4 linked regions of the Homo sapiens genome follow. The protein of the gene in region 1 interacts with the protein of each later gene in a biochemical or structural test. Each region holds a gene or a part of one and is shown on either strand. Other genes may lie near its edges.

Region 1 (3,500 bases):
TCCCCATTATTGACAGCTTTCTCCTCGTATTGAAAGCTGCAAAGAGAAACTTTCTTATTTGACATGATGGTGTATAATAAAAGGGAAGAGGACTGAAACGATGAGAAGGACCAGTGGCCTGGTGGAGGGGAGCCATCCAGAGGGTCAGAGGCATGGGGTCCTGCCCCACTGATCTCCTAAGTTGGGGCAATGCTCTTGAGACCTGGCCGATCGCAGATCCACGGGAAGCTACAGGGTAGTGCCACAAGGTCCCAGGAGACTTTCCGCCAGCTTCCCTCAACGGTGACATCTTAGGTAATGGGTGCAAAACCAGAACCAGGAAGTTGATGTGGGTACGAGCACAGAACCGCCTTCCCCAATTTATCGTGTGTGTGTGTGCGCTTCGGCACCTTCTAACAAGCACCCGGGATTACCTTCTCAGAGTGTGCACCACGCAGCTTCTGGAACACAGAGCTTGGCTGTTCTCCTTGCTGCCAGGCTAGTTGCAGAGTCAGATAATCAGACAGACAGGCTCCGCTGGGCCCGCGCAAAAGCAGAAGAGGGGTGTGCAGGTGTCTCAGTGTGCGCGGCGTGGGGTGGAGCTCGGCTAGTGGCTTCACTTCTCCAGGCCTGAGTTCCCCCGTGTGTCTCTACTGGGAGATGAGATGGAACTGGATCAAGGATGTCAGAGTCCTTAGCTGGGCTCCAGTTGTCTGCAGATCTCTCTCCATCAAATGCATCAGTTTGTGTGTGGTGCATATGGTGTAGTAGTTTTTACCAGGTGTCTGCAGCTTTTACCAGATTTTTAGAGGCCATGTGACCATCAGATCATTGGGCTCAACGACCTTGGAGGCTGTGCTCAGCTGCACATGATGAGCACCCATGCCTGCCCTGGGGGAACCTCTGGTCCCTGGCACAGCTGAGCCTCTGTTCCGTGTACTCCAGCCCTGGGTCTCAGCACAGGACTGCCCTGGTCTTGGTCTGCACTGGTGACCTGCCTGAGCCTTCACAGTCCTGGTGGCTTTGCACAGATGTGCATGCCTTCCCTGGGACCCCCCTGCCAGGATCTGACTCCGGTCCCCGCTGAAGGTAGACGGCTAAGCCTCCCTCTCTGTGTCTTCTCCTTCTCTCTCCTAGAAAAAGCTCCCTGTGTTGTTGCTGGGTCACTCGGCCGACCTGCGGCCTGGGGAGTTTGTGGTGGCCATCGGCAGTCCCTTCGCCCTACAGAACACAGTGACAACGGGCATCGTCAGCACTGCCCAGCGGGAGGGCAGGGAGCTGGGCCTCCGGGACTCCGACATGGACTACATCCAGACGGATGCCATCATCAACGTGAGTCCCAGGGACAGGAGGCCGGGGCACCTGCCATCTGTGCCCAAGACCTCAACCTCGAGGTGGTCTCTGACTCGGCTTGCCCCCCTCCCCAGAGCCATTCTGGCACTCGACACATCCACTTGCTAGAAAGTTCTCTCTTTACATTCGGTGGAGCTCTAACCCTGTGACTTCCACCCCAGGGTGCCAGGCACGCTGGGAGTCAGAGGCTGCTGTCCTCGCTCGGGCAGCCTTTCAGAGAAACAGAGGCATGGCCACAGCCCGCAAACACCTTTGCCCAGCTTACACACCCTGGCCAACATTGCTTTTCATTATTATTGTGATTATGTTGGTGGCACGTTTAGCATTCACAAAGCACTTCACCCAGATGCCCCAGATCACGTCCATCCAGCTTTGCCGCAGCTCAGGCACTTGGCTGGAATCCGAGTCTTTGTAGAGGGCCCCCCCAGGCCAGCAGGATGGGAAGTAATACCCCCATTCTCCATGCACCAGGCGGTGCTGCCTGGCCTCCGGGGTGTAGATGCCGAAGCGTATGGTTTGTGCAGAGAACAGTGACAGTCAGACCTCGGTCATCAGGCAGCCATCCACATGGCCTTCTTATCTGTGAAATGGGGGCAGCACTGAGGCCTTTCGATGCTGCTGAGGATGAGACCTGCTTATGTGTCTCTGCACTGGTTAGAGGCAGATCTGGAGAAGGGGCTCCAGGAAGCCTCAGGCGGGGTCAGGCACAGCTAATGCTGTTTCCTCCCCTTGCAGTACGGGAACTCCGGGGGACCACTGGTGAACCTGGTAAGTGTCCCCTAGAGCCAAAATCTCTCAGGTTTCTGGGGTTCTTCTCACATGGGGGTGCTCAGCCTTGAGGTGGGACAGGGCCCACAATATGGTCCTAGAACATTTACACCAACAGTCGGGAGTGCAGCTGGGCCGGAGGCCTGGAAGGAGGAAAGACCAAGGCTGCCCCAAGCGCCTCGGGGATGCTAGTGGCCACCAGGAATGAGGACTCACCCATGAGCAGCAGCTCAGTCCAGGGCCATGTGCCTGTCAGGGGAGCTGGGGCAAGGGAGACGCAGGTGTGGGGCTGCTCACCTCAGCCCTCCCTGCCCTGGATGTACACACAGGATGACAGGGGCACCCTCATTCTCCCCTTCCCAGTTGTGTCTTGAGCCTCAAAGTCAAGCTCAGCCTCATCCCAGGTGAGATTTTTCCAGAATAAACCAGGAAGCTCAGTTCAGAGCTCCTAGGCCCTGAAGGATCGGACGGTCCCACCCCTGAAGCTCCTATCCATGGCTGGGGAGGTGTCCAGATGTGAACAAGCCCAAGCACCATGTGAGCCACATGAGATAGCTCTGGAGGGACGCTGGGCAGGAAGACCTGGCAGCTGATGTGAGATCAGGGAGGGCTTCCTGGAGGTGAGAGCATTATACAACAGCCATCGAGATTGAGGAGGACTGGGTACAGGAAGAAGAAATCCCAGGGAGAAGGCACAACATGAGCATTGCAGGAGGCTCTCAGAGGCTTAGGGAGGGGGAGGTCAGACAAGGGGACAATGAAAGGGGCTGGTGGCCCATGTCCTGCTGCCTCAGGCCTCGTGTGCAGATGGGGCTTCACCCTATGTGCCCAAGATGTCTCCCAGGCTTTTGGCAGGGCTGAGGCCGTGCCCTGGTTTCAAGGAAGCTCGTGTGTGTGGTTTAGGCTGGAGGCCAGAAAGCCAGGCCCAGGAGGCTGCTCCGCATGGTCCAGGCAGTAGAGATGGGCACAGAGGGCCGAGGGTGGACACAGAACTCAATCTACTGGATCTCACACTCGGATGCTCTTCCTGCCTCCTGAGCTTCCAGGGACCAGGAGGACAAAGGGTGCCTTGACCCAAAGCTCTGCCCCAGGCCCCAGAGGGATCCCTGGTGAGCTGGCCAGGCCCTGACAGGGAGGGCAGGGCTAGGGGTATAAGCCAGGCTGTGGGGTGGGGCTCCTTTCCAGGAGTGTGCCTGAGTGTGAGGTCCCCAGGGGCCAGGTCAGATCCTGCCCAAGTGGTACCAGCCTCATGGGGGGCAGGGCAGGTTTGGAGGGTCTCCAAAGAGAGGGATGGGGGGGTCAAGGAGCTCCCCTGGTCCCACCTGCCAGCCCCCCACTTCTGGAAGGTAGGGATAGACAGGGTCTCTGTCCCCGACAGGCCTTACCATGTTCCTCCCTCT
Region 2 (3,500 bases), on another chromosome or scaffold:
AGATATTAATGCAGGCTTAAGAGATGAAACAGAAATACCTGAACAATTAGTAAGTACATTGACTTAATATTTAATTTTAAAAGATATTTATAAGCTCTCTTCATGATGTGAATAAGGCATGTTCTAATTTTTGTCTCAAGTCTGTTTTTAATTTAGAATGCATTTTCCTGTAGACTTAATATTGTTAGTGATGGTTAGTTCCTAGACCCAGACCAGCTCATGCCCCATAACAAAAGAAGCTACAATATGGCCCTGAATCCCCTTTGATTCTTGAACCCTTCTGAGCCTAGACTTGTTCTTGACCTTGAGGAAGTTAGGAAAATTAAAGTAGCACAGCAAAGACGGAGTAGAAATTTAGCAGTTGGACAATTCTGATGGCAGCTTAGGGAAAAGGCTTGATAGAGAGAAGAGCCTAAGCTGTCATGGGATTTGCCCAGTTGGTAAACCTCTACTCAGTCTCTGTTATGCTACTTTAAAGCAATTTTTGGCTACATTATTTAGTTTTATTTTTGTATATAGGTTCCAATTTCTTCTCTATCTGAAGAGCAGTTGGAAAAGTTAATTAAGAAATTGAGAAAAGCAAGTGAAGGTAAGACTGCCTAAAGTTGCAAGTTCAATTATTTTAGAGTAATTAGGTGGTATATGAGTTGATACCATTCTGGTTTAAAATATGTTACTACTATTGTTCAGAATCCTACAATTACATGTTTGGCTGCTTAAGCTGTTGTGCTTATATTTGGCACAGGCTTGAATTCTACACTTAAAGATCATATTATGTCCCATCCAGCATTACACGATGCACTTAATGACCCTAAAAATGGCGATTCTGCAACCAAGCACCTGAAACAGCAGGTATGTTTAGGCTATAGTAACTACTAAACATGGCCTTTGTTCATTTGTTAAAACTGTTTTAAATGTAATTATTAATAAGATTTTATTTTGTTTACCTTTGAGGGTACCAAATATTTCCATTTCAAAAATATATAGAAACATATACAAAAAATTGAGGGCATGGATGTGATTCTGAGTACCGTATATTAAATATTTAAAGGCAAGAGAGAAAAATTTTAAGTCAAATACAAATTATCAATGTAAGCATACTGCCTTATGCAGAAATTACCTTGCTGTTTTCCCATTTGAACCAAATGTGTTTACTCTAGTTTATAAAATAATCTTGTGAAGTTTGCAGGCTTCTATTTTAGGTAACATTGAAAATTTAAAGTTACTTGGTCCAAGAAGATGCTTTGTTGAGTTTGGAGCGGGAAAGGGAAAATTATCTCATTGGGTTGATATTGCCTTAAAAGATGCTGAAAAAGTTCACTTCATCCTAGTGGAAAAGGTGACCACAAGATTCAAGGTAAGTGAAACCATTGCTCTGTGTTAGTAACCAAACTTGTTTTCATTTTTTGTATTCAGGAAAAAAGTGATAGAAACATTTCTTAAAAGAAAGGAAAGGAATTTTCTTTATCTGTTTGTTGTAGCTTTTTATTAGTTCTAATTGTATTGATAACTCAAACTGAAGGTGAATTTTTTAATCTAAGTTTTGATAGTCCATTGATCTGAATTCTTAAAATTATTTGCAGAGACAGGAAAATATATAGAAAGAGCCAAGCTCAAGCTAGGAGTTAAAAGTCTTGGGCTCTACTCCTATCTTTGCCACTTGCCCTTCATTCATTAAACAATTTTTGAGCATACTGCCAGGCCCCACCCAGGCTGAAGTACAGTGGCAGGATCGTGGCTCACTGCAGCCTTGACCTCCTGGGCTCATATAATCCTCCCATTTCAGCCTCATGAGTAGCTGGGACTATAGTCCCACGCCACCATGCCCAGGTAATTTTTTAAAATTTTTTGTGGAGACAGGGTCTCACTTTGTCGCCCAGGCTGGTGTCGAACTCCTGAGCTTAAGCCATCCTCCCACCTTACCCTTCCAAAGTGCTGGAATTACAAGTGTGAGCCACTGTGCCCAGCCACTTTATTACTTATATTTAGAAAAGAGACCCAGGCAAATACATAAATGATTGTAGTGAAGTGTTAAAATACGAGAAAGGTCTGCACAGAGTACAGCATGGTTTCAAAGAAGGGAGTGACAAGTTCTATTGCAGGGAAGAGATGGAGAATGACTATGTAGAAAAGGTGATGCTTGAACTAAATCTTGAAAGGTGAATTGGTGTTTGTTAGAGAGTTTGAGAAGCATTCTAGGAAGCAAGAACAGTGTAACCAAATACCTGAAATAACAGGAAAATATGGAAACATTCCTGTATAATGGGAGTACATGGTGCAAAGTAGAGTTCAGCAATGATGGGACTGGAGAGGATGGCTAGCCTATAGAAGGTCTCATATTTTATGCTAAGGAAGGAGTTTGACTATGCTGCTGTCTGGTGGGGATACAATAGAAAAAAGATTTAGTTCTTGGCTTTGAGGAAGCTTACGTCTAGTGGAGTAGACATATAAATATTTGTGTTCAGTATGCTAAGTGTGTTTTGATAGTGGTAAGTACCCAATCCTATGGGAGCATGAAGATAGAGCACCAACCTCAGTCTAGTGTGGGTCATAGAAGTTTTTGCAGAAGTGACAGTTGAGATGAGATTGAAATAATATGTAAGAGTTGGTAAAGTAGAAGGAAATTTTTCAAAGTTTATCCTAGCAGCACCATTAAAACTATATTAGAAGAGTCTGATACTTAGAGAGATTAATAATAAAGATAATTTTTGTCCAACAATCCAAGTAAGAAAGAGGCCAGAGCTAAAGCTATTGCATTGGGATGGAGAGGAGGGCAAGAGTATGAGAAATATTAAGATGTTGGAAGCCACAAGAGTTGGTGATTTGTTAGTAATTGAATATGAGAGATAAGGAGTAATTCTCGGTAGGATTTTTATGGCTTAGGTGACTAAGTGGTGTTCTTTCCTGAGATAAGGAATGAAGGAGGCACAAGAGGAAGGATGGTTTTGGAGACAGAAATAATGAGTTCAGTTCTGAATGTGTCCAGTTTGCTGGTGAAGTAGAGCTTTCTAGTTCACAATTGAGTATGTGTCTGATGCCCATTGGAGAGGCCTGAGCCACAAATGTAGATCAGCCGGTCGTGGGCACATAGGTATAGATTAGAATGGTTGTGATCTTTCAGGAGAGCAAGAAGAGGAGCGAACCAAAAATAGTACACCAGGAGTGACAAAGATAAAGGAGCTAGTAGACAATCTTAGATAAATCACTTAAGATCTGTGAACTTCAGTTCCTTTGTCAGTGAATTGGGAATTTTTAGGGTTAAAGGAAATAATGTCTATGTAATAATTGATAAACATTTTCAAATCTTTTTTAAAAAGTGTGATATTTTGAAGTTCTCATCAAAGAATGTACAATCTTAATTTTTAAATATGTTCTGTTGCTCTGAATTTTGAAAACCAATAAAAATCTTTTTATTTTCATAAAGCTTTTTTAAATGTAAGAAGTGATTATTACAATAATGTTCTGTTTGTGCAGGTGGATGGAAAACACAGAAAGAAAAA
Region 3 (3,500 bases), on another chromosome or scaffold:
ATGATTAATAGTATTTTAACTGTAATGTCTGAATCAAACTAAGAGGGGTGGAATACAGCTCCTCTGTATTCATAAGTAAAACTCTAGTTTGTATTTATACTTCCTGGAGATCATTCATCATCTTTTTCCAAGCCCCTTCCCCTCATACTAGGGTTCAATATTTCTTAAGTTTAGTGATAAAGACACAGTATATTTTAGTGTTTGATACATGATGTTCTAAGAGCACAAGAATGTTTATTTTCAAAATGAGGAATCATTTATCTCTGTGGTTCTCTGTGATAAAGTAAATATTTTCCAAAAAAAAAAATGGTTTCTATGGGGAGGAAATATAAAAGTCCTTGAAATAAGACCAAACCAAACAGTTCTGGGAAAATGTTGCACCATGGTTATTAAGATAATATGAGTGTTGGATAACTTTCTTTAAACACCATTTTCAACTAAACAATTCAAAACTCATGTAACTAACCTATGAAACTTGTTTGGAGAATCCTACTCCATGCTCTATGCATGAGGAATTGCACTGAAAAATGTATTAGTTTATATTAAATCCCAAATATTTTATAGGAAGCTAAGATTGGAAATGAACATAAAAATGGATACTGCGTCACTCTAACTTGTTTTTTTAAATAGCTTTTAGAGTATGACCAGATAGCTACCTCTCTCTCTCCTTCATTCCCTTCCCTTTTCTTTTATCACATGGAGGAATTCTTCTTGTAAATATGGTCGCTTTTACCAAGACATCATTTTAAGACTATTGGTAATAAATTAGTTACATTAATCCTAAATAGTATATAGCTTAGATACTAATAGCTAATACCAATAACTCAGATAAATTTGTTAGATGGAAAGAAGCCTCCATGTATTACACAAATTCATATTGAACATAATATGAATGTTATTCATGTTTATTGTGTGAAGAACTTAACTATCATACAATAAATTAAGAATATTGATTATCTACACCAATGAATACAATGATCTAGATTACAGTAGTATCTAAGCATCTATTTCTCTAGCACACCCAAATAATGAGTATAGATAGCAAACAGTAAACACCTAAAGCCAGGGTTTACCTGAGGTGCTGGGAAAATCTGATGACTTAAAGAACTGTCACATGTACAATGACCACAAATATAAAGTATTTAATCCACCAAAAAGATGAAAATACTCACAAAGAAATGTAATTTTCCAATTAGATAACACTCATTATATCCTGCTAGTTTCTCGTGCTGTTTTTTTTTCAGAAGTTGAATCATTGAAAAAAAACTCCATTAAATCGACTTTATTATATATAAATCAAAGGTAACATCAGAGTTCCTGACTAGGTATCTAGTCATCATTTGAAGGATTATGCAGCACAAAGGAGTCCAGAAGTCTGTTCCACAAAACAGTTGACTTTTCTTCTGTTCTTTTCCAACACCCACTAGACAGACACACACACACACATACACACACACTTGCACACACAGTGAAGACAGGCACAAATACACACCCGCTCATGCACACTCAGGTTATCCAGGAAAGAAAAAAAAAAGTATAAAGCACTTATGCTATTCAATTCAGTGGGAGACTTTTAAATCTAGAAGAGTATGCAGGACAACTCAAGGGTAAACATGAAGATATGTTTAAAACTTTAAAAACAGCAGAAAATATTGAGCAAAACCACTTTTGTTGAAGATACCTTCTGGCATCTGAAACTAAGGAGACTGTTTTGCAGAAACTCTGTTTCTGTGGTGTCCACGCTATGCTCAATAATACTCTCACTCTACTCATATGATACAACTTGGTAACTTGTGACAAATGTTTAAGACTATGTCACCTTTAAGACAAATTGCCTGGTACATGCACAAAAAGAAGAGGGTAGCTGAGGGTAGCTAAGTAAGTCCTGTCACCTTTCTGATTCCTCTAGTCCATGGCAACCATTTTTTCTCTGACCCCAGGCAACACAAGTGCTATGTGTCCAATACATAGTGCAAGCTCTTTAAAATGTAAACCCTAACTCACACTGCACTGGTATGTCACACCATATTTAGCCCACAATTTTTATATGTGGGATAAAAACAGTATTCGGGGATTTGGAGACTACTCTAACAGTGAGTCTGGATACCTCAGTGAATCTCTGACAGCTTAAGATAATTATTCTGGGCCACTTTTTTCATTGTGCTGTGTGGTCACAGTCTTCTGAACAGTTTTGCCTTGAGATGAGGCTGAAAAAGAGGAGTAAACACACTGATTTTATGATATATTTTTGACCTTTTAGTTTGGCCAGCAGAGGGACTAAGGCAAGAGTCTATACTCAAACATACTTTAACACATCTTGCAACACTGAAAATTGCTAAAATTTGGAGGAAAGAGAAAATATTAAGTCACTCAAAACTGTAAGCTGCAAGATGAAAGGCAGGGATACCTACTTTGCTCTCAATAGGTCTTGATCTTTAAGGGCTGAACCTTGAAGGTAGATAACTCGTTGGGACCACATTGGAATCTGCAGTACCCTTCGAACCTGTACATCCATTTCAGTAGGACACAAAATCACCACATAATAATCCTATTCAAAACAAAATGGGCAATGGAATAGAAACAAAAATGTTTTATGTTACACTACATAGAAAAATAAAATATCTAAGAAAAATTTGAAATATGATAAAACTGAAATGAACTTTTGCTAATAAAATTTCACATTTAAAACCTGGACATATATTAAATAGCAATTACACTATAATAAATACAACTGGGACATACACAAATCTCATAAATCAATAAATTCATCTCAACTTATTTCAGTCTTACTAAGACCATAAGGGAAGGTAATCAGTGGTTATACCTGGCACACACTTTCAGCTTGTGAAGGTTTTAGTTTTATCTACAGACTGATCCTAAAATATACATTGAACACCAGGCAGAAGCATTTAAGTATCAATTCATACTTCATTACTTTTAGGATCAAAATTGTGATAGCGATTTATATCATTTAGCTATATAATTATGAAACAATAATTTTGAACAGTTTCTGATGAATATTTGAATGAATAAGGATCCATAAAAACACTGAAAATACTGACAAAGTAAATTAAATGAACATGATATCAAAATATTACAAAATATATGGTCCTTTGGAGAAAATTACATCTGAGTGGTGAAACAGTTTAAACCAATGATTTATAGAAATTAAAATTCTCTGGTAAACATTCACCATTTTACTGCTGTAAAATATATCTACTAGGAATTTCTGGAGTTTAAATAATTCTCTACATTGATACTAGATAAAGTTAATGACTGTATGATATGGTTTGGATTTGCGTCCCTGTCCAAACCTCATGTTAAATTATAATTCCAAATGTTAAGAGAGGGGCCTGATGGGAGATGACTGAATCACGGTGGCAGATTTCCCCCTTGCTGTTCTCCTGATAGTGAGTATGTATCACCACCCTCTTCCTCCTGCTCTGGCCATGTGAAGACACACCTGCTTCCCTTTCGCATTACACGTGACCATAAGTTTC
Region 4 (3,247 bases), on another chromosome or scaffold:
CGCCGCACCCGCCAGGTCACCAGATACCGCAATGGAGACGCCTATACCACCACCCAGGTGAGGAGCTGGTGGGGAGTGCAGGACATTCAACATGGGAGGTGGCACTTACGTGCTGCCTCACTCCCTCCCCACCTCCCTGGGGGGAAGGTGGGAGGAGCAAAAGGCAGCAGTGAGCTCCCATGAGCATTGCAACAGCAGGGCAATAGCAACAACCATAATCATAACAGCAAAAACCGACCAGGAGCCAGGCTCTGCTCTAAGTATTTTACACACATCAAATCATTTATTTAACCCTCATAACAACCCTATGATGTAGGCAGGTATTCCCATTTTGCAGATGAGGAAACTGAGGCCTGGAGAGTTTAAGTAATGTGTCTAAGGTCAAATAGGCAGTATGTGGTGGAGATGAGACTTGAACTCAATCAATCTGGCTCCAGGATCTCTATACTGTTTAGTGCTTAATGGATCTACTTAGTGATTAATGGCAGAGTGTGGTGGCTCAGGCCTGTAACCTCAGCACTTTGGTGAGGCAGAAGGATCTCTTGAGCCAGGAGTTTGAGACCAGCCCACCCGGCAGCAACATAGTAAGACCCCATCTCTATAAATAATAAAAAGAAGTAGCTGGTGTGGTGGTATGCACCTGTAGTCCCGGCTACTCAGGAAACTGAGGTGGGAGAATCGCTTGAGCCTGGGCAGTTGAGGCTGTAGTGAGCTGTGATTGCCACAGTGCAAGACCCCATCTCAAAAAAAAAAATAAAAATAAAAATAGTGCTTAATGGCTGGAGATGGCTTCACATGCCCAGTATCATAGCATGCTCTTACCTGTTCAGTGAGGTGACTGCTACTGAGTTCTTTCACAGGTATGGACACCTAAACTCAGTGACTTGTCCAAAGTCTGCTGCTCTTAAGTGGTAGTGCTAGGCTCAATCCCAGCTTCCTGGATGTCAAGTTCAAGGGTCTAAGAGGAGGTGGGCGTAGGAAGTCTCACTGAGGGTGGGCAGGTCAATCAGCACTTTGTGGACTCGCCAGGATGAGACATATTGGGGTCCTGGAGGAGACGTTCCCAGATGCAGGCCATCTGTCTCAGTATAAGGATCAATAGACAGAAGCCTGGGGCGGGTGAGAAGCAGGAAGGAGGCTGATGATAGCTACAGCGTGAACAGGCAGACTAGAGATAGAGGGGTTCTTTAGGGAGTGCTTCTGGGGAACCCATTGGGAAACACAATTGTAAAAGGGAAGAAAGAAGAAGAGGAGGCTGTTTGTGGTGATGTGGGGGCACTTTGGAAAACAGAGGCAGTGGCAAATGGATCAGGCAGGCCAGAGGGGCAGTTCATGGCCAGGGCCTGACCCCTAGAGGAAGCAGGGCTTAGTTAAAATTTAAATGCGCGGCCGGGGGCGGTGGCTCATGCCTGTAGTCCCAGCACTTTGGGAGGCCGAGGCGGGTGGATCACGAGGTCAAGAGATCGAGACCATTCTGGCCAACATAGTGAAACCCCGTCTCTACTAAAAACACAAAAAATTAGCCTGGCGTGGTAGTGGGCGCCTGTAGTCCCAGCTACTCGGGAGGCTGAGGCGGGAGCATGGCATGAACCCGGGAGGCGGAGCTTGCAGTGAGCCGAGATGGCGCCACTGCACTCCAGCCTGGGCGACAGAGCCAGACTCCATCTCAAAAAAAAAAAAAAAAAAAGAAAAAGAAAAAGAAAAAAAATTTAAATGCGCACAGGTAGGGCTGGTTCTAGTCCGGTCATCACGTCTGATTACACAGAGGGCGTCAGTTGCCCTGTAAGTCAGACGGAAAGATCCTAACCAGCTCCAGCCGGCACCTAAACCAAGACAGACTTAGGGTCCGACCAGGCAACCAGAGCACAGATGGGGCGGGAAAGGGTGAGTGGGCAGAAGCGGGCACCAATGACGGGCTCCCCGCGACCCCGCCGCCTGCCCCCCGCGCCGCAGGTCTACCACGAACGCGTCAACACGCACGTGGCGGAGGCTGAGTTCGACTACGCGCGCTGCGGCGTTCGCGACGTGTCCAAGACGCTGGTGGGGCTGGAGGGCGCGCCGGCCACGCGGCTGCGCTTCACCAAGTGCTTCAGTTTCGCCAGCGTGGAGGCCGAGAACGCGTACCTGTGCCAGCGCGCGCGCTTCTTCGCAGAGAACGAGGGCCTAGACGACTACATGGAGGCACGCGAGGGCATGCACCTCAAGAACGTGGACTTCCGTGAGTTCATGGTGGCCTTCCCGGACCCGGCCCGGCCGCCCTGGTACGCCTGCTCGTCGGCCTTCTGGGCCGCGGCGCTGCTCACGCTGTCGTGGCCGCTGCGAGTGCTGGCCGAGTACCGCACGGCCTACGCGCACTACCACGTGGAGAAGCTATTTGGCCTGGAGGGCCCGGGCTCGGCCAGCAGCGCAGGCGGTGGCCTCAGCCCCAGCGATGAGCTGCTGCCCCCGCTCACCCACCGCCTGCCGCGGGTCAACACAGTAGACAGCACGGAGCTCGAGTGGCACATCCGCTCCAACCAGCAGCTGGTGCCCAGCTACTCTGAGGCGGTGCTCATGGACCTGGCGGGGCTCGGGACGCGCTGCGGCGGGGCAGGCGGCGGCTACGCGCCCTCGTGCCGCTACGGTGGGGTAGGCGGCCCGGGCGCGGCGGGCGTGGCTCCCTACCGGCGCAGCTGCGAGCACTGCCAGCGCGCCGTCAGCAGCTCGTCTATCTTCTCGCGCAGCGCCCTAAGCATCTGCGCCAGCCCGCGGGCCGGCCCGGGGCCCGGTGGGGGCGCGGGCTGCGGGGGCAGCCGCTTCTCGCTGGGCCGTCTCTACGGCTCCCGGCGCAGCTGCCTGTGGCGCAGCCGCAGCGGGAGCGTCAACGAGGCCAGCTGCCCCACGGAGCAGACGCGGCTGTCCAGCCAGGCCAGCATGGGGGACGACGAGGACGACGACGAGGAGGAGGCCGGGCCGCCGCCGCCCTACCACGACGCCCTCTACTTTCCGGTCCTCATCGTCCACCGGCAGGAGGGGTGTCTGGGCCACAGCCACCGGCCGCTGCACCGCCACGGCTCCTGCGTAGAGACCTCACTGTGACCTCCGGCCCCGGAGTGGCCCGCGCCGTCCTCCCGCCTGCCCCTCGCCGGACTGTGCTCCCTCTGCGACGCAGGGCGAGTCACCACGGTGACTGAGGCCGCGCGGGGGGCAGGGAAAGGGAGGTGAGGGCCGCAAGACAGGCCCGGATGGGGCCGAGACCCCCGCTGTC

Evidence for each region. The genes of interacting proteins can lie anywhere in the genome.
Region 2: the proteins of HTRA3 (region 1) and TRMT13 interact in a test that uses a peptide from one of them, tested with the Homo sapiens proteins (one large-scale study listed by IntAct).
Region 3: the proteins of HTRA3 (region 1) and KCNT2 interact in a test that uses a peptide from one of them, tested with the Homo sapiens proteins (one large-scale study listed by IntAct).
Region 4: the proteins of HTRA3 (region 1) and TMEM151B interact in a test that uses a peptide from one of them, tested with the Homo sapiens proteins (one large-scale study listed by IntAct).

What each region holds. Positions count from the first base shown.
Region 1 is NC_000004.12:8,290,254-8,293,753, forward strand, and holds part of HTRA3 (serine protease HTRA3 isoform 1 precursor), read left to right. Parts: intron 1-1,116; coding exon 1,117-1,311; intron 1,312-2,067; coding exon 2,068-2,100; intron 2,101-3,500. UniProt on the Homo sapiens protein: Serine protease that cleaves beta-casein/CSN2 as well as several extracellular matrix (ECM) proteoglycans such as decorin/DCN, biglycan/BGN and fibronectin/FN1.
Region 2 is NC_000001.11:100,139,663-100,143,162, forward strand, and holds part of TRMT13 (tRNA:m(4)X modification enzyme TRM13 homolog), read left to right. Parts: coding exon 1-49; intron 50-519; coding exon 520-589; intron 590-745; coding exon 746-852; intron 853-1,189; coding exon 1,190-1,357; intron 1,358-3,474; coding exon 3,475-3,500. UniProt on the Homo sapiens protein: tRNA methylase which 2'-O-methylates cytidine(4) in tRNA(Pro) and tRNA(Gly)(GCC), and adenosine(4) in tRNA(His).
Region 3 is NC_000001.11:196,423,441-196,426,940, forward strand, and holds part of KCNT2 (potassium channel subfamily T member 2), read right to left. Parts: intron 2,549-3,500; coding exon 2,412-2,548; intron 1-2,411. UniProt on the Homo sapiens protein: Sodium-activated and chloride-activated potassium channel. Produces rapidly activating outward rectifier K(+) currents. Contributes to regulate neuronal excitability.
Region 4 is NC_000006.12:44,273,450-44,276,696, forward strand, and holds part of TMEM151B (transmembrane protein 151B), read left to right. Parts: coding exon 1-57; intron 58-1,953; coding exon 1,954-3,078; 3' UTR 3,079-3,247.